Linked DNA regions of Homo sapiens. The protein of the gene in region 1 interacts with the protein of each later gene in a biochemical or structural test. Each region holds a gene or a part of one and is shown on either strand. Other genes may lie near its edges.

Region 1 (7,934 bases):
AAGCAGAAATATACAATGTCACGCTATCCTGGATAATGAGGAGTCATAGAAATCCCCTACATACCCTTCACTGCTTTTGTGTTTTTCTGAAGTTAATGCAAACAGAGAAGCAAAACAACATTACCAGCAGTTTCAGAGGATGTGGGATTCACTTCTTGATCATTTCTAAATAATTTTCCACCTCCTCCATGCCTCTATGATTGCAACTGAAACTAAATTGCAACAATAATTAGAGACAATCAAGTAGTGTGGCAACGGAGCAAATGGACAGGTTCAGGCAAAGTTCTTTTCTTTAGAAGCCCACTCTGAAGACTTTCATCTTGGAGAGGAGAGCAGGAAAGGTGTGGAACAATAACAGGAAAGCAGACTCGACCAGACTCGACACGGCTCTCAAGTTGAAGTCTTCCACCGGTCCAGCACAATACACAGAGATGTTTCATCCCTTTCATCTCTCCTGTTCCAAATGACCTATGATGTGTGCCCCCCATACTTGAAATAAGAAGGCAATCTTCTAATTCTTACTATAGAATAAGTGTCCTAACTGATCGTGAATGCAAGAAATACTGAAGAAAAAATCTGTTTGACATAATCTCTTTTGATTAACACATGGAACATTTAGAAAGGAGCAGGTATGAGCCATAAGATTCCAGAAACTGAAGTGTTTTGTTTTGTTTCGTTTTTGTTTTTGTTTTTTGAGATGGAGTCTCACTCTGTCGCCAGGCTGGAGTGCAGTGGCGCGATCTCGGCTCACTGCAACCTCCGCCTCCCAGGTTCAAGCAATTCTCCTGCCTTAGCCTCCTGAATAGCTGAGACTACAGGCGTGCACCACCACACCCAGCTGATTTTTTTATTTTTATTAGAGACAGAGTTTCACAATGTTGGCCAGGATGGTCTCGATCTCTTGACCTCATGATCCGGCCACCTTGGCCTCCCAAAGTGTTGGGATTACAGGCGTGAGCCACCACACCTGGCCTGTTTTGTTTTTGAGACATGGTCTCACTCTGTTGCCCAGGCAGGAGTACAGTGGCACGATCTCAGCTCACTGCAACCTCCGCCTCCCAGGTTCAAGCGATTCTAGTGACTCAGCCTCTTGAGTAGCTGGGATCACAGGCAGGCACCACCACACCCGGCTAATTTTTTTTTGTATTTTAGTAGAGATGGGTTTTCACCATGTTGCCCAAGCTGCTCTTGTACTCCTGAGCTTAAGCGATCTGCCCACCTCGACCTCCCAAAGTGCTGGGATTACAAGCATGAGCCACCATGCCCAGCCTGAAACTGAACAGTTTATCATTATAACCCAGACCAATACAATCTGTTTAATTCACAGGAAGGTGTGGTGGCTCATGCCTGTAATCCTAGTACTTTAGGAAGCCAAGGCAGGAGAATCACTTGAGGCCAGGAGTTCAAGACCAGCCTGGGTAACACAGTGAGACCCTGCTCTATTTAATTAAAAGAAAAATTATAGTTTCAAAAAAAAAATCTACTGGCCAGGAGCGGTGGCTCACGCCTGTAATCCCAGCACTTTGGGAGGCCGAGGCGGACGGATCACCTGAGGTCAGGAGTTTGAGGCCAGCCTTACCAACATGGTGAAACCCCATCTCTACTAAAAATACAAAAATCAGCAGGGCATGGTGGCGTGCGCCTGTAATTCCGCTACTCAGGAGGCTGAGGCACAAGAATTGCTTGAACCCGGGAGGCAGATGTTGCAGTGAGCCGAGATTGTGCCACTGCACTGCAGCCTGGGCGACAGAGCAAGACTCCATCTCAAAAAAAAAAAAAAAATTAAATTAAATTAAATTTTCTAAAAATCTATTTAATTCACAATTTCTTCTCGTAAGGAAACATTTTGTAGTTGGCCAGAAGACAATATATGGGTTGAGAGATCTTTCATCTTTAAAAGAAAAATTAAAAGAAAGGTAAACGACTGTTACAATTAGCCAAAATCTAACCTAAACCCCAGTCAAAACTGATACACATTTTCCCCATGCTTAAAACAGTGACAAAAACCTGTAAATCACTTTATTTGATAGAAAAGAGTTAACCTAAGTTAAGTAAATAAACCATCATTTCTTATGATGTAGCCAGTTCATAATACACAAATATGCAAAATAAAAATTTTTTTCAATCCAGCTAGTGATCAGTAGATTTAATAAGTCACCATTTTGTAACCACCAAATTCAGTTTGTTTGCTTGTTTGTTTTAAAAAAAAACTTTTAAAATGTTGATCCTCACTGAGGGCACATTTGCACTATTACAGGTACGTGTACTGATACATTGCTAAGAAAAGAGTAAATTGGTGCAGCCCTTTTGGAAAAAGTTGGCACCAGACATCAAGAATTCTAAAAATGTTTATACTCTGACATGTTCATGTCACCCTGAGAATATATCTTAAAGACCACAAAGTGTGTATAATTATGGCAACCTTATGTTCCAGATTTTCTAAGAAGGTGTTCACTGTAAATAATTGTGTTCTTTTCAATAAAGGCAAATCAGTAAGTTAGTAACTAAGTTTGAGAATAATGGAAGTCATCCATATCATAGAAAAACAAAGAAAACGGGTTCTGCATGGGGTCAAACATGCACAGAAGTGTTCTGGTTTCTGTTTGAAATGGAGAGTTGAGGAAAAAAACTCAAACTCACCACATATTAACTTTTTACAAGATGGAACTTGGTTCAATCCATTATTCCCTCCACAGTTGCTGAGCTGCCTCTGTAGGGCCCCAGGCACCATGCCTATTCTGGAGACATGGTGATGAAAAGGCAAATCTTTCTTAAATGCAACAGGCTCCTCTCCCCAGCCCGCAGCAGCACCCAGACATGCCAGTGCCCAGACCTTATTTTTCTTGTTGAATCTTCTCACCACCCACACACAGGTCTCCATGGTACAGCATGACAGCTCTTCCTATAATTCTGATATAAATCCTCCTTTTATCCAGAGTCTTTGGTCACAAACCGTAATACATACATGTGAAATGTTCCCAAATCTTGAGTAGACACTCAAGATTATGCCTGTGAGAAAACTCCTTTCCATGAAAACACAGAAGAAACTACTCTCTTTTCTTATCAAACCCCCGAAGTACCCACCAGGGCATTCGGCATGGGAAATCGGGTTAGAACTGCCGCAAGGCACTGCTCCCTCAGACAGCCCACCACCTGTGGCTGGCATAACGGCCCTGGACTTGCTGCCTGCTTTCCCTCTGTGCCACTAGGCACCCACCCCTGCAGTCACCCCAGCTCCCGAGGCATCACACCATCCACAGACCACAGGGTTAGTCCTCCTGAGGTCCCTCTGTGTGTTATGACACCACACCTAACCCGGCACAGAAACCAGGCTGAACACCCTGACAGTCTCCTGTGGCCCATGAAGATTGGGGGGGCCGCTGGGGGTTAGGGGAAGAGGAGAGATGGAAGGAAGTTACTAATTAAGAGTGATCTTGAAAGCCTCGGGTGCTAAGGGTCTTTTTTCTTTTTACCCCTGTCCTGAGTATTCCCTTATATCCTTCCCTCAAAGGCCAAAGCTAGAGACAGCAGATACGTTTTTATGCAATTGGACCTCAATGCTTCTCGAAATATGCGAATGAACAACTTTCTTGAATGTCTTACCCCACCACTCTTCCTCTACAGAGAAAGTGAAACCTCGTTTTTTTAATTCTTGCTGAAAACACTGCTATTTTAACTTGAAATTTGTTCTTTCTTGTTTTAGATAATGAATTAGTTCTACCTTTCCTGCTTTAGATAATCAATCTGGGAACTCAATGTAAAAATTACATCAAAGGCAAATAAAAAGTAAGGTATTTCAGAAGCTGAATAAGTAAAGGACATTTGCAGACGTCTCTTCCTTTTCATTTGAAAACTCACCTAAAAATTATTTTAAAATTCTCTGTTGACAACTTCCCTAATTGAAGCTAACTTCTTGAAAGGAACAAAAATAAGACATGCATTTGCTATAATGAACATGATAGACTCCAGCAACTTTCATTTTAAATGTTTATATAGAAATTATGCTTAAAGGCCAGGCACGGTGGCTCATACCTGTAATCCCAGCACTTTGGGAGGCTGAAGTGGGCAAATCACCTGAGGTCAGGAGTTTGAGATCAGCCTGGCCAACATGGTGAAACCTCGTCTCTACTAAAAATACAAAAATCAGCCGGGTGTGGTGGCACATGCCTGTAATCCCAGCTACTTGGGAAGCTGAGACAGGAGAATCACTTGAACCCAGGAGGCAGAAGTTGCAGTGAGCTAAGATCACGCCACTGCACTTCAGCCTGGGAAACAGAGTAAAACTCTGTCTCAACAACAAAAAAAAGAAATTATGCTTAAAAAGGAAGTTCATAATTGAATCACGGCAACTGCAGTCATTAGCCCCAAAATGATGACCATTACAGAGCAACAGGATGAACATACTCTCTGGAAAATCCCGCAAATACTCCCTTAAAGTGCATTATATGTGGTTTTCTGTTTACAACCCTGAACATTATTACACAGAAATATATACTGGCAACAGTACACACAAGCCAGGCGCAATGGCTCACACCTGTAATCCCGGCACTTTGGGAGGCTGAGGCGGGCAGATCATTTGAGGTCAGGAGTTCGAGACCAGCCTGGCCAACATGATGAAACCCCATCTCTACTAAAAATACAAAACAATTAGCTGAGCGTGGTAGCACACGCCTGTTGTCCCAGCTACTCAGGAGGCTGAGGCACGAGAATCGCTTGAACCCGGGAGGCAGAGGGTGCAGTAAGCCAAGATCGTGCCACTGGACTCCAGGCTGGACAACAGAGCGAGACTCTGTCTCAAAAAAAAAAAAAAAAAAAAGTACACACAGTATGCATGTTATAAAGAAAATGTATGCAAAATTTAATTTTTACGATTTTTTTCTTTTTCCTGAGCAGAATAGTATTTTCTTAAGTTAATGGTTTGTCTGGTGGGACTCCACAGTGCCATAAACAGTTTTTTTTTTTTTAAAAAAAGAAACCAATAGGCCAGGTGCAGTGGCTCACACCTGTAATCCCAGCACTTTGGGAGGCCTAGGCAGGGGGATCACCTGAGGTCGGGAGTTCGAGACCAGCCTGACCAACATGGAGAAACCCTGTCTCCAGTAAAAATACAAAATTAGCCAGGCGTGGTGACGCATGCCTGTAATCCCAGCTACTTGGGAGGCTGAGGCAGGAGAATTGCTTGAATCTGGGAGGCGGAGGTTGCGGTGAGCCGAGATCGCCCCATTGCACTCTAGCCTGGGCAACAAGAGTGAAACTCTGTCTCACAAAAAAAAAAAAATAAGGCCGGGCGCGGTGGCTCACGCCTGTAATCCCAGCACTTTGGGAGGCGGATGGATCACGAGGTCAGGAGATCGAGACCATCCTGGCTAACATGGTGAAACGCCGTCTCTACTAAAAATACAAAAATTTAGCCGGGTGTGGTGGCGGGTGCCTGTAGTCCCAGCTACTCAGGAGGCTGAGGCAGGAGATGGTGTGAACCCAGGAGGCAGAGCTGGCAGTGAGCCGAGATTGCGCCACTGCACTCTAGCCTGGGCAACAGAGCAAGACTCCGTCTCAAAAATAAATAAATAAAAATAAATAAATTAAATAAATAAACAAACCAGTAAAGATATATCCCACACAGGTGTAGTCTGAACCAAACTGTCCCTATCTAATGAATACAAAAGAGTACTGGAACTGAGAAAGCCTTTTTGTTGGTTTTTGAAATTGTCTTTAATTGGACAGAGAAACTCTAAGACTCTCTTTCTATAGCATATTATCAATGAGCTATGTTCCAAAAGTTTTTTAATACTAAAAGGTAGCCAGGAAATTACAATGCATTTCCCTCCAGAAAGAATTCTAAAGCCGGGCGCGGTGGCTCACACCTGTAATCCCAGCACTTTGGGAGGCTGAGGCGGGCAGATCACGAGGTCAGGAGATCGAGACCATCCTAGCTAACATGGTGAAACCCCATCTCTATTAAAAATACAAAAAAAAAAAAAAAGAAAGAATTCTAAAAACAGTGGTACCTGTCCTAGGCTGATTCACAAAACGTTACCAACTTACGCAGCAGGGACAGGGACAGGGACAGAGGAAGCACTGTTGAAAACAGCGCACACACAAAGTTAACACCACAAGAAATGTTTCTCATTATTCTGAAAATCAAATATTAAGGTTTAGGCTGGGCTTGGTGGCTCAGGCCTGTAATCCTAGCACTTTGAGAGGCTGAAGCAGGCAGATCAATTGAGGTCAGGAGTTCAAGACCAGCCTGGCCAACATGGGGAAACCCCATCTTTACTAAAAATACAAAAATTAGCCAGACATGATAGCATGTGCCTGTAGTAACCCCTACTCAGAAAGCTGAGGGAGAATCGCATGAACCCAGGAGGTGGAAGCTGCAGGGAGCTAAGACTGTGCCACCACACTCCAGCCTGGGTGACAGAACAAGACTGTCTCAAAAAAAAAAAAAAAAAAAAAAAGGGAAAAAAAATTAAGGTTTAAAAAGTTTATTTAGGGCCGGGCGTGGTGGCTCACGCCTGTAATCCCAGCACTTTGGGAGGCCAAGGCAGGTGGATCACTTGAGGTCAGGAGTTTAAGACCAGCCTGGCCAATATGGTGAAACCCCATTTCTACTAAAAACACAAAAATCAGCCGGGTGTGGTGGCAGGTGCCTGTAATCCCAGCTACTTGGGAGGCTGAGGCAGAAGAATCACTTGAACCCAGCAGGCAGAGGTTGCAGTGAACCAAGATTGCGTCACTGCATTCCAGCCTGGGCAACACAGTGAGACTCCATCTCAAAAAAAAAAAAAAAAAAAAAAAAGAAAGAAAAAGTTTAATTAGGCCTGGCACAGTGACTCAACCCAACACTTTCAGAGGCCAAGGCGGGAGGATGGTTTTAGACCAGCCTGCGCAACATAGTGAGACTCTGCAACTATTTAAAAAATAATAATAATAAAAAGTTTGTTTAAAAGAAAACAATGGAAGTTCTGAGGTGACGTCTGAACACGTCATGTTATATGCTTTATGAATCCATCACACACATTTCCTTTTACAATGTGGGATCTGGTCAAGGTAAATTCTCTGTGAAACCTATGAGGGAAATGGACAGTTCTGGAGACTAACACAAACCTTAAAGAACTTGGGAGTCTTATTCTTCATATGATCATCTTACACCATCAGGTACTTTTTGTGTGGTGACCCTCTGGGTGGGGAATCTTCAATCTTTTTAGTTCCTCCAAAATAAAAGGATGATATTTAAAACTGTAGAAAGGGGAACAGGCCAGGCGGGGTGGTTCATGCCTGTAATCCCAGCACTTTGGGAGGCTTAGGCAGGCAGATCACCTGAGGTCAAGAGTTTGAGACCAGCCTGGACAACACAGAGAAACCCTGTCTCTACTAAAAATACAAAATTAGCCAGGCGTGGTGGCGCATGCCTGTAATCCCAGCTACTCAGGAGGCTGAGGCAGGAGAATCGCTTGAAGCTGGGAGGCAGAGGTTGCAGTGAGCCGAGATTGCGCCATTGCACTCCAGCCTGGGCAACAAGAGTGAAACTCCATCTCAAAAAAAAAAAAAAAAAAAAAAAGAAAGGGGAAGAATAAACTTACAAACTTTCTCATCTTCGTGTGTGGCAGACAGAATAACAGCCCCTAAAGAAGTCCGGGTACTAATCCCCAGAACTTGTGAATAGGTTACCTTACATGGCAGAAGGGGAATTAAGGTAACAGATGGAATTAAGGTTGCTAATCCTTAGCCTTGATTATCCAGGTGGGTCCCACTATAATCACAAGGATCTTAATAAGAGGGAGGTAGGAGGTCGAGAGAAATGAGAAGATGCTACCTGCTGGCTTTGAAGATGGAAAGGGGACTATGAACCATGGAACACAGGTGGCCTCTAGAAGCTGGAAAAGGTAAGGAAATGGGTTCTCCCCTGAGCCTCCAGAAAGAACCAGCCTGTC
Region 2 (8,765 bases), on another chromosome or scaffold:
CAATCTCTCTCTTGCATTCTCTCTCTCTAGATATAGCTATCTATACATACACATCTTACTGGTTCTGTTTCTCAGAGAGTGCTGATTAATTCAAGTAGCTTCTCTTCAACTTCAGTATAAAAATCTTAAATCCTCACCTAGCCCACAAGGCTCTTAGTCATCTTACCTCATATAATGCCTTTGTACAAATTAGAAAAAGCCACCCTCTCTAGGCAGATACAGCTCTGACCAAACATAGGGCGAGGTGGGTGGAGAATGGTGAACCTTCCCTCTTAGTATAGTGCACAACCTGGACAACCACATGGAGTTGCCTTACTTTTGTTTGTTTGTTTGTTGTGTGTGTGTGTTTTTAATTGAGACAGAGTCTCGCTCTGTCACCCAGGCTGGAGTGCAATGGAGTGATCTTGGCTCACTGCAACCTCTGCTGCATGGGTTCAAGTGATTCTCATGCCTCAGCCTCCTGAGTAACTGGGACTACAGGCTCCCAGCACCATGCTCGCTAATTTTTTTTGTATTTTAAGTAGAGATGGGGTTTTGCCATGTTGCCCAGGCCATTCTTGAACTCCCGACCTCAGGCGATCCGTCCGTATTGGCCTCCGAAAGTGCTGGGATTACAAGCGTGAGCCACCGCGCCTGGCCGTTCGTTGTGGGTTTTTTGTTGTTGTTGTTGTTTTGAGACAAGGTCTTGCCCTGTCTCCCAGGCCGGAGTGTAGTCTCGGGATATTGGCTCACTGCAACCTCCGCCTCCCTGCTCAAGTGATCTTCCCACCTCAGCCTCCCAAGTAGCTGGGACTACAGGTGCGTGCCACCACTCCTGGCCAATTTCTTTATTTTTTGGTAGAGACAGGTTTTCACAATGTTGCCCAGGCTGATCTCCAACTCCTGACCTCAGTCGATCCTCTGGCCTGGGCCTCCCAAAGTGCTGGGATTATAGGCGTGAGCCTCTGCGTCTGGCTGCCCTGCTTCTGGATGAGCCACTGACTGACGAATTAGCCTCGTCTCTCTTCCATGTTCTTTCCCTTTACTCCTTCCTCATCCCAAACCCTAACCTCCCTGCAGCTCCTGGAACCTGCTGTGCTCCCTTGCTGCTGTGCTTTTGTACACCTGTCACTGCTGTTTCAAGTCCCTCTCTTATTTTCTGGTATTGCTTCCTCTGGCCAAGTTTTGCCGAGGCTCAGCCTGGGTCAGCCTTCCCTCTTCTTGCCCGGGGTCCTAGCCCTTACTTCAGGTACTGTGCTGCTTCATCACTCGTCTAGATTGGAGAATCCTCCAGTGAATGGGGCTTGAGCTTTGATCCATCGTGCTGGGCACTAGTAGGTGCTCAATAAATGTTTATTGAACAACTGAAAACCGGGAAGTGAATGAATGGATGAACGGGGACACAGCAGCTCGCAGCGGGCAGCAGGAGGCGCTCGCCGGGAGGGTGCTCCTTCCCTTCAGCCAGCCGGAGTTCAGCCAGCGGGCCCGGCGGGAGGAGTGGGAGTGGGCCGGGGCCAGGGCCGGGGAGAGGGGCCATCCCCGCGCGACCCGCAGCGCCGCACAGCGAGGGGGAGGGCGCCTGCGGGGAGGACAGGGTCGGGGGAGCGCCCTTCCGCAGGCTCCTTTCATTCTTCCACTTAGGGGTCTCCAGGAATGAAAACTGGCCCCAGCCAGGCCAGAGCGCGCGAATGAAAGGCGGCACTGGGACCAAGAGAGAAGCTTCGTCCCGCCTGGGCTGCGGAAACTGGCGGCGCCAGGGGTGTCCCACCGCGCGGGCGTCCGAAAGCGGGGCAAAGGGGACAGCCTCGCCCCTCGAGCGGCTGCTCCCGCAGCTCGCTCACCCCTGCGGGTACGTCGTCACTCCCGCGTGCGGCCCCGTCCCGACTCTTGGATCGGACTCTTCAGTCCCTTCTTGCGTCTTCCCCTCTTTCCTCTGGGCCTTGGTATGCCCCAGGGGACAGATGTCTTGGGATCTTTAACATTTGGGATGCTGCAAATGCCGAAGTTAAATGAAATACCTCCGGGGAGGGCAGGCCGCAGGGAGGCTCGGGGGGAGGGAAGATGGCCTGGACAAACAGGTCCTGAAGCTGCGAGGCTGGAGTGGAGGGCGCAGGGGCAGGCGGGCGGCGCCAGAGCTCCATGGGACAGGTAAGCGGGAAAACTTCGGGGCACCCAGTGCGGGTGAACTGGGGCGGGGGATCGGGCCCCTGAACCCACGGTCTTCAGCCTTAGCGGAGGGTGCCCTACAGGGAATGGGGTAATTTTTTCAAAGGGGCAGGAATTCTGAGTTCCTACCAAAAATGCACATTTCCAGTCCCTCAACCTTTCTCCTTCGACCTTCTTCGTGCCTGTGGATCTTCCTGGCCAGGTTCCGGGAAGCCAGAAAGCAGCCAAACAAAAGGAGCAAAGTCTCGGGCCAGCCTGGATGTGGAGGGCGCAGTGGGGGAGGGGAGCAGGGTGGACAGGACAAAGGGGCTTTTTAGAGAAAGCCTAGAGGTCTCATTTCAGGGCGCATTCCAAGCTGGCTTGGAGTTCCCCTGTCCCAGCCCACTTCACCTTTGCTTAGTGGAGGCGAACACCTTTCCTAGTGAGCAGGGAGCAGACGCGAGTAAGAAAACAGTGAAGGAACCATCTCCTACCCCTCTTGCCTGGAGGGTCCCGGGCTATTTCACTTCTTCCTTTTTTCACTGTTGTCTCTAGCGCTGGCCATTGATTCCTTAATTCTTGAAGTAAGATTTTAGCAGTGCCTGAGACTACTTTGCTGGGGGCTGTTGGGGATGTGAAGATGGTAGGACGAGGCCCTTGCTTTAAAGAACTTCCAATCTGGTGTTATCAGAAGACCCTAAAAGAAGGAACTTTTTTTTAAAAAAAATGGAGAGTGGATGGCTACAGCGCTGGGGAAGAGTTTTCTGACTCGGGACTTTTCCTCAGGAAACGAAAACACTGAAGAGGTCCAGTTTCTCTTCCCTGGGGAAGGGCTCTTGTCTGCAAAGATCAGATTCCAAGTACTATAATGTTTTGCAAGGAAATACCACTTCCTCACCAACTGGTGGTCTGGACGGCACTCTGGGGTTTGGGGCTGGGGCATCAGTCCCCTGACTCCCCGGCCTGACTGGAGTGGGGAGCTGTTTCAGATTCCCAGCTGGCCTCTGGAGTGCCCACCTCCCCCATTGGTATTTTGAATTGAATGACATGGCCATCAGAGAGCTCCAAGGATGGCTCCCCGGGGTTCTTGGCAGGAGGTTTGGTTAGCCAGCTCCCTTCCAAACCTCAGATTCTGCAAGGTTGGGAAATATTGAGCGTGAATTTGGGGGAGCAAGGTGTTTTTGAGAATTCCAAAGGATCAATGCAAACAGTGAGATTGAGCATCTGTACTAACCTCCCCTGAAGTCAGAGATGGAGGATTACCTGAGGGCAGGGATTCTTAACTGGGTTCATTGGCATTAGGCATCTGTAGATGGAATTCAGAGGATGTGTAAACTAGGTGAGGCAAAAAAAGATATCATTGTTTTTCACCAACCTTTAACAGATTTTAACATCACCTTTAGTTATGAAGACAACAAATCACAGTAGCATTGGCAGTACCTGTGACTTTGCCATTAATAGAATTCATAGTTTCATATCACACTGCAGTCACAGCAGTCTTGAAATGTTGTTTACACTCAGCCCTTGTGTGAAATTACCCACTGCTAGACCCTGCTTAATGTTAATAAAGAAGCATATATATTGCTATGTTTTTATATTTTTAGAACTTTATTTCATATAATTGACTTTTTTAGTGATCTTCTTAATTTTATTTTATGCTCAAGAAATGTGAACTGTGAGCCAATTCACAGCTGGTAGAAACTTCCACCAACCCCCACCTGGAGCTGGAGATGGGCAAGGTGGAGGAAGGGCCGCTTATGCCCAGAGTCAACCCCTCTCTGTTTGACTTTGTAAGAAAGTGCCAAGCCTCTATGGGGAGGGACGGTGTGTCACGGAGGACTGGGGAAGGGCAGGGCTGCAGGCTCTTTGGGAGACCCAGAGAACAAGCTCCCAATGGGGCGGGGGGAGGAAGAACTGTCCCCTCTTAGGGCCCCTCAGCCTCAGCCTGGGCAGAAAATGAGGTGGTCAGCCTGGAGCACTCTGGGGCTAGCATTGTTTGGAAAAAGGGTGTGTACAGGAATGTGAAGGTGTGCTGGGTGTGTGTACCGGAGCAGTGGGGGATGCTGGGGGACTCCAGCCCCATGAGTTCCGCTCCACAGGAGATGCCTGGTGAAAGCAAACTTCCTCTGTCATCCCTGCACTTGGGGGTAGGGAGTGGGGACAGGACTTTTTAGGGGCTGGGGGAGGGGAAGCAATCCAGACATGTATTGAGGCACTGGAATCTGGGTCGGGGGAATGGTGGGAAGATCAGAGAGTGGGGGGAAAGGGAGGTGGTAAGATGAAGACTTGAGGGGTGCAGCCTGCTGGGGACAGGCCAGGCAACAGTCAGCGTTAGCTCTGCTTCCGCCTTGAAATAGGCTAGATTCCAGTTTCCCATTTGCTTGGGGGTCGGTGGGATGGGAGATCTTGAGGCTTATTTTTTATAGGAAATAAGTTCCATTTTGGTCTCTGGCTCCTTGCATTTGGGGAGTGGACTTAGGGTCTGGGGTCACAGTGGACCTCCTGTGGAGTAGGAAACAGGACTTGGGCTCAGGTCAGTGCCTGTCAGTGCCCCATGAACATGCGTTGCTGGGGGATGGATGTAAATAATCAACAGAGAAGTGATGGCCTCGATACCCTTGGGGGACAATGTCTGGGATAAAAAGAACAGCCTGATCCTCTCTCTCTAGGATTCTAGAACTTCTGCATATTGGAATTCCAGCTGCCTTGCCTGAGGTTTTAAAATCCTCACTCGGGAGAGATAAAACCCAGGCCTTGGTCTTCATTTCCATATGTGGGGAAGAGCAGTGACCCATCCCTGTCAGTTTGTAAATGTCCTGCTTGTTTTTTCCATGGACAGTGGACATTTCACCTTGCTTCCGGGGTGCTTAACAGGCCTCAATTTCTGGAAAGAGAAACTGAGGTCAAAGGAAGGCAGGGAGAGCCAGGGTCAGGACAGGAGGGCACGCAGGTACCTCACAGCTCAGAATGTTGTACTAGGGTCTCTTGAGGCCATGAAGACATGACTCTTGTTGTTGTCTTCTTTGGGGATTCCTCCATGGGAGCCCCTTTTTCCCTGCTACCCTCCTGCCCCCCGGAAGTGCAGAGGCCCAGGAGCTGCCTGCTGGCACCAGTTGCACGGGATTAGTTCAGGGAAGGACTTGCTCACCTGCTCCTCCCCTCTGACTCAAGTCATAACAAGTAACCTGGTTCCCCTGGCCCGGCAGCCTGGGAGGGACGGCAAGGTAGGCAGGTGAGCCGAGACGGACGGACGGCCAGCAGCTCCGTCAGCTGGAGAGAGAGCACAGGCCTGTGGCTTGGGAGACCCTGAGGCGACATGTGAGGGCCCTGAGCCCCCTGACTGGAAGCAGGGGCTGTTTTTCAACTCCTGGACTAAAGCCCAGAAGCAGGTGAGGGCGGGGGAGGTGGAATGGGTCTTTGGGGCTGAGAGCAGGCTGGCCTGGGAGTGGAGGAGCCCAAGCAGTGGCCATCACCCCCCTCCGACCCCCACCCCCGCCAGCCTATGTCTGGTGTGTAGGGATGACAGAGGGGTGCTGGTGGGCTTGGACGGGAGCCTGTTCTTGTGGTTGCCTAGGCCTTAGTTTCCACCAGAGGGAGAGCAAGCAGAGATGAGCTGGGACAGGCAGGCCTGAGACCTGGCTTTGGGGGACACACTTGGGATAGAGGAGGATCCCCCATGGCCCGGCCTGAGGGAAGGTGCTCTGGAGTTTCCCTCCCTCCCTCTGTGCCCCTTCTGGTCTCCTCTGCCTTTTTCTGGGGACATTGTTCAGCCGGGTGGGCTGCTTTTTAGGGCCCAGTACTGGAGCTTGAAGAGGCCCAGGAGGGATCCCTGTGTTAGGGAGGGGGTGGGGATGTTACCTGAACTGCCTTTATCTAAAAGCAATGCCTTAGACACTTAAGACTCATAGCCTCCTGGGTGGGGGTGGTGCCCTCGCTCTCACCTGTTGACTCTGGGGCAGGTTCCCTACAGCTGTGGAGGGCGGCCTCGGCAGAGGCAGATGTGAGGGTCCGCTATGTGGCTGTACGGGTTTCCTTCTTGGCCTGACATTGACCAAGAGGTCGAGATTCAGACCGGGGACCTGGAAAGGCTTTAGACACTGTGCAGTCTTTATTGTGCACAGGAGGAAAGGAAGCCCCGGGAGGCCTGGTGACTTCCCCAAGGTAGTACAGACCGCAGCAGAACCAAGCCTTGAGCCCACAGCCAGGGGCTCTGGGCATCTGACGCTGTTCTCTTTGCTCTACTTGGGGCAGCAAGTCATCCCAGAGAGGACCCAGCATCAGGCTGGGACCACTGGGAAGATCAGTGCCTCCCCTTTGATGCTGGCAGTCAGAGACTGGGCTGAGCTGGGAGAAGGGGAAGCTGGCGGAGACGGGAGGCGTGCTAAGGTACCCCTCTGTCCCTGTAAGTCCCCACTCCTCTGCAACAGTCTCAGAGCCCCTGAGAAGCAGGGGCTGAGTTGGCCCAACTTTCCAAGGCAACTACTTAGTGGTTAATAATTAATTAGCAAGCGTGACTAATTAATGGCTTCCCCTCCCACATTACTTCCTCCTCTGTGCAAAGCAGACACACTCAGCATGCTAGCTGAGACCACCTTGCTTCCTACCTCTGGCTGCACCCTGCTCTTGGCTTCTGGGGAGGGTGGGAGGATGGCTAGGGTGGGTGGGAAGGGGTGGGGGTGAGCTGCCTGCTCCTCTGTCCTGTTCTTATCTCTACGAGGGATAGAGTTTGGGACAGATGGACAGTGCAGAGCTAATAGTCATCCTAAGTATCCTGCGGGGTGGGGTTCCAGAATATATGGCCAATCTTTCAGAACTTTGGCATGTTTGCAAAGGCCTCCCATAAAGTTAAAAAAAATAATTCTCCCATGCATTCTCTAGACTTCCTTGAATAATTGAAATTCCAAAGTGCAAGGTACATGTTGCTTTCAGGGCTTTGTGTTTGATTGTTGCTGCCTGTGGTTGCTGTGTTGTTTATGTAGGTCTATAAAAGTTCTTGATCGTCCTGCTCTTATCATCTTGATGGGTGGAGAGGTATCACCAGGGACCTGGCTGACAGCAGTCCCCTCTCCCTGTTGGCCTTGCTTTGTTACCAGCTTTCCCAAGGCCGACTTTTCTGTCGTGTTGGCTGCCTGAGGAGGGGTGGAGCTCACCTCCCCCACCCTGCGGCCCCGCGCTCTGAGGAGGCAGGATAGGCTCCAGACAGAAACTCGGAAGGACTTTTGGACTCTTGCTCAATGGGCTGACTCAGTGAGGAGGTGGCTGAGCTCTCTTTCCAGACCCAACCACCTGCATGGGCTCCGCCCACCCCTCCCACCCCTGCTGCAGCCAGCAGCTGCCAGGCCCTGGCCAGCTGGGACCCCAACCAGGGGTGTGGGTTGGTGAGGAGGGAGAGGGGGTGGGCACAGGTGTTATCTGGGTGACTGGTCCCTAGCTGAGCCGACACAATGGGATGGCACCTGTACCACCCAAGTGTTCTCCACCCCGAAGCAGGCAGAGGAGCAGGTGATCTCCTTTCTGTCCTTGCACAGCTTCTGCTCTAGTCACTGCTTGCCCCTCTCCTGTCAACTCTTGGCAACCCTGATAGACACAGCCCTGGGTCTCCCCTGGCTGTGGGGTGTAGGGGATCTAGGCTGATTCCCCTTCAGTGGTCTCCCAGGAGTAATTGATGGCTTGAAAGTTGTTTGAGGGCTTTGGGACAGCTCTCTGGCATACAGTGGCTGCACATATCTGCAGATGATGTGAAGTTCAGAGTCCAGGGCGCCAATTCAGAGAGTGGGCGTCCTGGACTTCGGAGGCCCCAGACCAGGGCCTTGGCCATGTGCCTGCCCACTTCTTGAAGTGTCCTCAGCCACTGGGGCGTAGGACATGCCTCACACCTCCTGGGTTCTTGGGTTGAGGATAGCTGTGTCCCATAAAGATGTCTTCCCCTTCCTCCTTTCTTTTTTTTTTGGAGACGGGGTCTCTCTGTTGTCCAGGCTGGAGTGCAATGGCGTGAACATGGCTCACTGCAGCCTTGACTTCTCCAGGCTCAGGCAATCCTCCTGCCTCAGCCTCCTGAGTAGCTGGGACTACAGGTGCACACCACTATGCCCAGCTAAGTTTCATTTTGGAGAGATGGGGTCTAAGTTGTCCAGGCTGGTCTTGAACTCCTGGGCTCAAGCTATCCTTCTGCCTTGGTCTCCAGAAATGCTGGGATTACAGGCGTGAGCCACCATGCTGGGCTTCCTTCCTCCTTTCTTTGTTATCCCATCCCATTTTTTGTCCCCTTCCTTTTTATCCTGTCTCTGCTCTTTTCCTTCTTGCCCTTCTCCCCAGTCGAGCGGTTCTTGTGGCTACCACAGCTGTCGACCCCCTTAGGCCTAGAGGACTTTGGCCCAGAGGGGAGTTAGGCTGGGCCCCTGAGAGCCCACTGAGAACAGGGTTTGCTGGTGAGGCCCACAGCCCCTTCTCTAGGTCAGCACCCCCAGTGCCAGAATCTCCTGCCCCAGATGGTTCCTGAAGCACAGTCCTCCCTTCCACTCCCCTGCTCTCAAGCATCTATTCAGCTTTTTGTAACCAAGATGGTTCATATCTAGCTTTTTTGTTATTGTTCTCTTTTCTCTTTAAAGCTGGGGAAGCTCCAGGCTACCTACACAACCTGG
Region 3 (4,742 bases), on another chromosome or scaffold:
GTGCCTGTAATCCCAGCTACTCAGGAGGCTGAGGCAGGACAATCACTTGAACCCGGGAGGCGGAGGTTGCAGTGAGCCAAGATCACGCCACTGCACTCCAGCCTGCGCGACAGAGTGAAACTCTATCTCAAAAAAAAAAAAAAAAAGCCCCAGGAGGAGGCGAGGAGAGAAGGAAGGCACCAGGTGCAAGTTGCTGACACCGAAGCTGGAGGAAGAAGCTCAGAGACAAGCGAAGTGGGGCACCTGTAGCCCAGGGAGTGGGCAAAGAAATGGATTCTCCCCCAGAGCCTCCACAAGGAGTGCAACCTTCCTCGAACTGTGAGTTCACAAATTTGTTGAAGCTGCTCTATTTGTGGTAATTTGTTATATCAGGAATAGGAAATAATATGAGATTGTTCCCGAAATCAGGAAACGCATGGTGCCTATACCTTTTACTAATACCTTTGGTCTAAAATAATTTTTCCTGCTTCCATGTAGGAGCCTAGAAATATTTGGTGGTGGCAGGACAAAGAAGACAGAAGGTGGAGCTTGGCTTGTGAGGTGAGACTTGGGAGAGAGTCAGGAACAAAATGAAAACTGTGTGTGTAGACAGCAGTCAAGGAGCATGAATCAGTTCAAATGCAGGCTGATTCCCTCTGATCAGTGGATCCAAAGAAAGGCAATTTATTAGGCTATTTCATTATTTTCTTTGTTCATTTTCAAATAAATATCTCATATGTTTTAAGCAGCTTGTGTACCACATTTTGTAACTTTTATAATATGCAAATTTTAAAAATTCTTTAAACAAAATGTGGGTGCCTAGAAATAATAAGTAATACAATGTGCAAGTCAAATTTAGTGGTCCAATGGCAATTTTTGAAAAATCTAAATATTATTGTATTAATAAACCTGTAACTTGAGAACCACTGGAAAAGACCACATCGATTATTGTTGAAACAGATTTCCAATATAATTAGATCTTTTATTTAAAAATAAAAACAAGTCTAGAAGCGATTTTGATGACTGCCACCAGAGGGCACTGTAACCTTGTTGTAGACGATCAAAACGCAGCCATTAAACACTTCCAGCCACATGTTTATTTCTTTGAGAAAGCAACACTGCAGGACAAAAATGAACACCAGTAGTATATTTCAACTTTTTTTTCATGTCATTTGCCTAGATATATTTTTTTCTTATTTTTATTTTTATCTTACAAGTCAACCTCAAAAACATAAAGCAGGAGAGAAATGAGCCATGCCTCTTTTTCAGTTTAGAGGGGTAGCTGACACAGGATGAGAGCACAGTAAAACTTAAGCTAAGATTTCCACATTAATATCTTGCCCCCAAACACCATGCAGTGCTAAAAGTCACATTCCCATCATGCAAGCACATTAAAATATATGGCGATTAAAACTCCTGGTTTCTATTTTACGGCATTTGCTCTTTCCACGAGGCACACTTCCCTTTTGGGCTAAAGGTTAAAAAAAAAAAATTCAAATACAATGAAGAATCCATTATTTTCAATGTTTTCTATGTGGTTCTGGGGTCATGTGGGAAAGAACTGAGATGTGCTGAAGAGGCAAGGGAATTGCTTCCTGCCCCACGACACAGAGAAACGTGTGTCTGCTCAATGCCTCATTCAAGGAGACGAGTGGCTTTCTGTGAGGAGAGAAATTATCCCCCTTCCACAGTCCATTTCATACAGGCTGCAAACATTTAGTTTCAGGGACTTTTATTTTCAATTATGTATTACAAAACCCTGGGCAGGGCAGTCATCTCCCAGTTCTAGGATTCAATTTCTCCTGTGAGGTATACAAAAGAAATTGGAAGAGAAATAAATTGGAAAACCACAATTGGATATCATATTCTTGTTAGACTGAAGAAGAAATGCCCCCTAAAACTATGTGGATATGGCAGCTTTTCTGTACTTAACATTACTCATTAAATCATGTATGTGGCTATATCAAAATACTGTCTTTCGGCCAGGTGTGGTGGCTCACACCTGTAATCCCAGCACTCTGGGAGGCAGAGGCAGGCAGATCACCTGAGGTCAGGAGTTTGAAACCAGCCTGGGCAACATGGTAAACCCCGGTCTCTACTAAAAATATAAAAATTAGCCGGGCGTAGTCCCAGCTACTCGGGAGGCTGAGGCAGGAGAATCACTTCAACCAGGGAGGCAGAGGTTGCAGTGAGCTAAAATCGTGCCACTGCACTCCAGCCTGGGCAACAGAGCAAGACTCTGTCTAAAAAAAGAAAAAAAAAAGTATTTCTTACTAAGAGATAATGTACCTATGAATTTAAACATGTCTTAAATTTGAATAGCACTTCTTTTCAAAAGACTTAAAAATATTTTTTCTTTGAATCTGTTTCATCTCTGTGACATTGTTTGTGACTGGAGTGCTACCTGAGTAAATTATCATGATTACATGAAAAGCAATTAAGAGAAGAAGGTCAAAGGACCAACCTCTAATCACTAAGTTTGGTCTCTAACATTTGACAGCACATGCCTCAAAAAGCAAACAAAATAAACACTCTCCATTTCTTTAAATATATGTTTTTCATCCAAGGATCACACAGCACCTCCCAAGTAGTCTAATGTACAGAAAGAAAAGAAAGGAAACACAGCATGATTAGGTGAAACCCCAATCCATAGACAGCCCGCCAGCAGGTTGAGGCAGGACCACTAGGAGGAGACTGTGCTCAAGCACAGAGAGGGCCCTTTAGGTTTCAAATGGAGAATTTAGCCAAACAGCCACCAGGGCCAGCCGTATGCTAAGCCCAGTGCAATGAAACACACGCTCCCAGTCAAACTTCTTGGTTTCCTAGTGGGCTATGTGCCAACAGCAACTTCACAAGGTAACAGGTGAAGCGAGGTGGGGGGCGGAGAGGAGGAAATGGGCAGAGAGCCGCTGGGAGTCCTGAGACTCAAGTTCCTGCTTCATCACTGGGGGCTCCGGGCCAGGCACTTCACTGTAATAATCCACAATCATCTCAGAGCATGGGGCAGCGGGAGGGGGCTGAAAACACACCAATTTGCAAACTACAAAGTGCTGTGTAAATGTAAGGCATGGGTTTCACATTGAAATCTGACTCCAAACACAATCTCTTTCTTACGCTTCCTGGAGTCTTTGTAATCCTATACTTTAGGAGTCTTTCTAGGCCTTTGATCCTATTCTGAGATTTGAGCTGTTGTGGCAAAACTAAGAATTCTTTAAAGCAAAAGACGCCCTTGCAATGCAGGGCTCAGAGTGTCTATTTGCAATATATCAACCAGTGAAGGCATCACATCAGGCTCCGTTCTGGATCTACAGGCTAACAACAGAGGGAAAAGGTCCTCTTCACAACCCCAAAGAGGAGTCCTCTCCAAATCCTAATCTTTAGCAGGTGCCACAGATTTGGATCTACGTGTGCTGAGAGATTCTCCACTTCCTTCCTGAGCAGCCATGGTTTTCTCTCTCATTCCACAGCTCACAGACACTGCAGGACTGGGTATAGGAATTGGCCCTTGGACCCCAGGAAACTACCCCAAATGCATTTCAGAGATGACCCGGTCTCAAGAAATATACTGAAAGTAATCCAGTTTTCCCAATATTCTTTGGACCAGAAAAGTGGCTTGAGGCCAAGAGAGAGAAGCCCATGTCTTCCTACATTAAGTGTCACGGAAAGTGTCACCCACTCTCCCTCTCACTCCTGTCTATCCCCCCACCCACGTCTTAGTGGCCACAGCCTAGGCTGAGAACTCACAGAAGCAGCCCTACTTTCTAGCACAACCTGGTCAAAAGCAAAATAATTTACAGGGGGAAAAACACGAATGAGCAGGCAATGGGGCTCCAGAAAGCCAGGTGCAAAATTGTGAAGTTCAGTTTCCCTTTCACTTTGGGAAGCTCTGCAAAGTAAGCTTTAACTAGCAAAGCAAAAACTTCTAGGCTAATGTTCTTGACTTTGAAAAATAAATTTAAGCCTTGGCTAAGTAATCCCAGGGATCTTTTTTGCCTTAAGTTTCAATGGTACTAAAGGAGTTTACAGTTGAAAGGCTGGGGAAATATGTCTTCACGAAAAGCCAAAGGAAAGCATTCAAAGCTATTCACAAACCCTGCTCAAAAGTGTCTGGAGCTCTTCAATTTAAGAAAAACTGGAAGTCTACAGGCTGGTGTTGCAAACCAAAGAAAAATAGGTGGAAGGGCACTTTATGTCACACTGTTATTTCTGCTATTGTTATTTGTTGTTCCTTCAATACTCTTTACATTGCCAATCCTAAATAATTTCCCTTCTGGTATCTGCTAATCACAGAAAGAATCAGTAATTTCCAGGGGCAAAAGGTTAAAGCACTGCTTTCCTAAACCAGGGCATCAGGGTGCAATCTGAGGATCTGAATGTTCTCTCTGTCAGGTCACCACAGGTCAAACTCATCTTCAGTGGCTTCCCTAGGTGGAGAAGTACCCACATGTTTGCTGGGCCAAACTGACTGGCCTGGCCTCTTATCTTAGAGAAGTTTCTAGCAGTACAACTTGCTTCTTGTTTTTTGTTTTTATTTCTTAATGCTAAGGTTGTTTTTTGTTTGTTTGTTTGTTTACAGAGTATTAAGGCTTCTTAGTAAAGCTTGGGGAACTATTCAACAACTATTTCCATTTTGTTTGCAGATATAATTCAGGTGGTTCCTTCCATTTGAATGTCAAGCCACACTTTGAAGCTATAAAACAAAATAGGTTGTGTGAACAATTTGTTACGGGTAGGCAGGGCCAACATGGGTACTTGGTGGGTTG

Evidence for each region.
Region 2: the proteins of CYTH1 (region 1) and INAVA form a complex in vitro, tested with the Homo sapiens proteins (one study listed by BioGRID).
Region 3: the proteins of CYTH1 (region 1) and IPCEF1 form a complex in vitro, tested with the Homo sapiens proteins (one study listed by BioGRID).

The regions. Positions count from the first base shown.
Region 1 is NC_000017.11:78,771,863-78,779,796, forward strand, and holds part of CYTH1 (cytohesin-1), read right to left. Parts: intron 1-7,934. UniProt on the Homo sapiens protein: Promotes guanine-nucleotide exchange on ARF1, ARF5 and ARF6. Promotes the activation of ARF factors through replacement of GDP with GTP.
Region 2 is NC_000001.11:200,889,575-200,898,339, forward strand, and holds the start of INAVA (innate immunity activator protein), read left to right. Parts: upstream 1-5,325; 5' UTR 5,326-5,513; intron 5,514-8,732; coding exon of another isoform or gene 8,733-8,765. UniProt on the Homo sapiens protein: Expressed in peripheral macrophages and intestinal myeloid-derived cells, is required for optimal PRR (pattern recognition receptor)-induced signaling, cytokine secretion, and bacterial clearance.
Region 3 is NC_000006.12:154,153,556-154,158,297, forward strand, and holds the end of IPCEF1 (interactor protein for cytohesin exchange factors 1), read right to left. Parts: 3' UTR 941-4,742; downstream 1-940. UniProt on the Homo sapiens protein: Enhances the promotion of guanine-nucleotide exchange by PSCD2 on ARF6 in a concentration-dependent manner.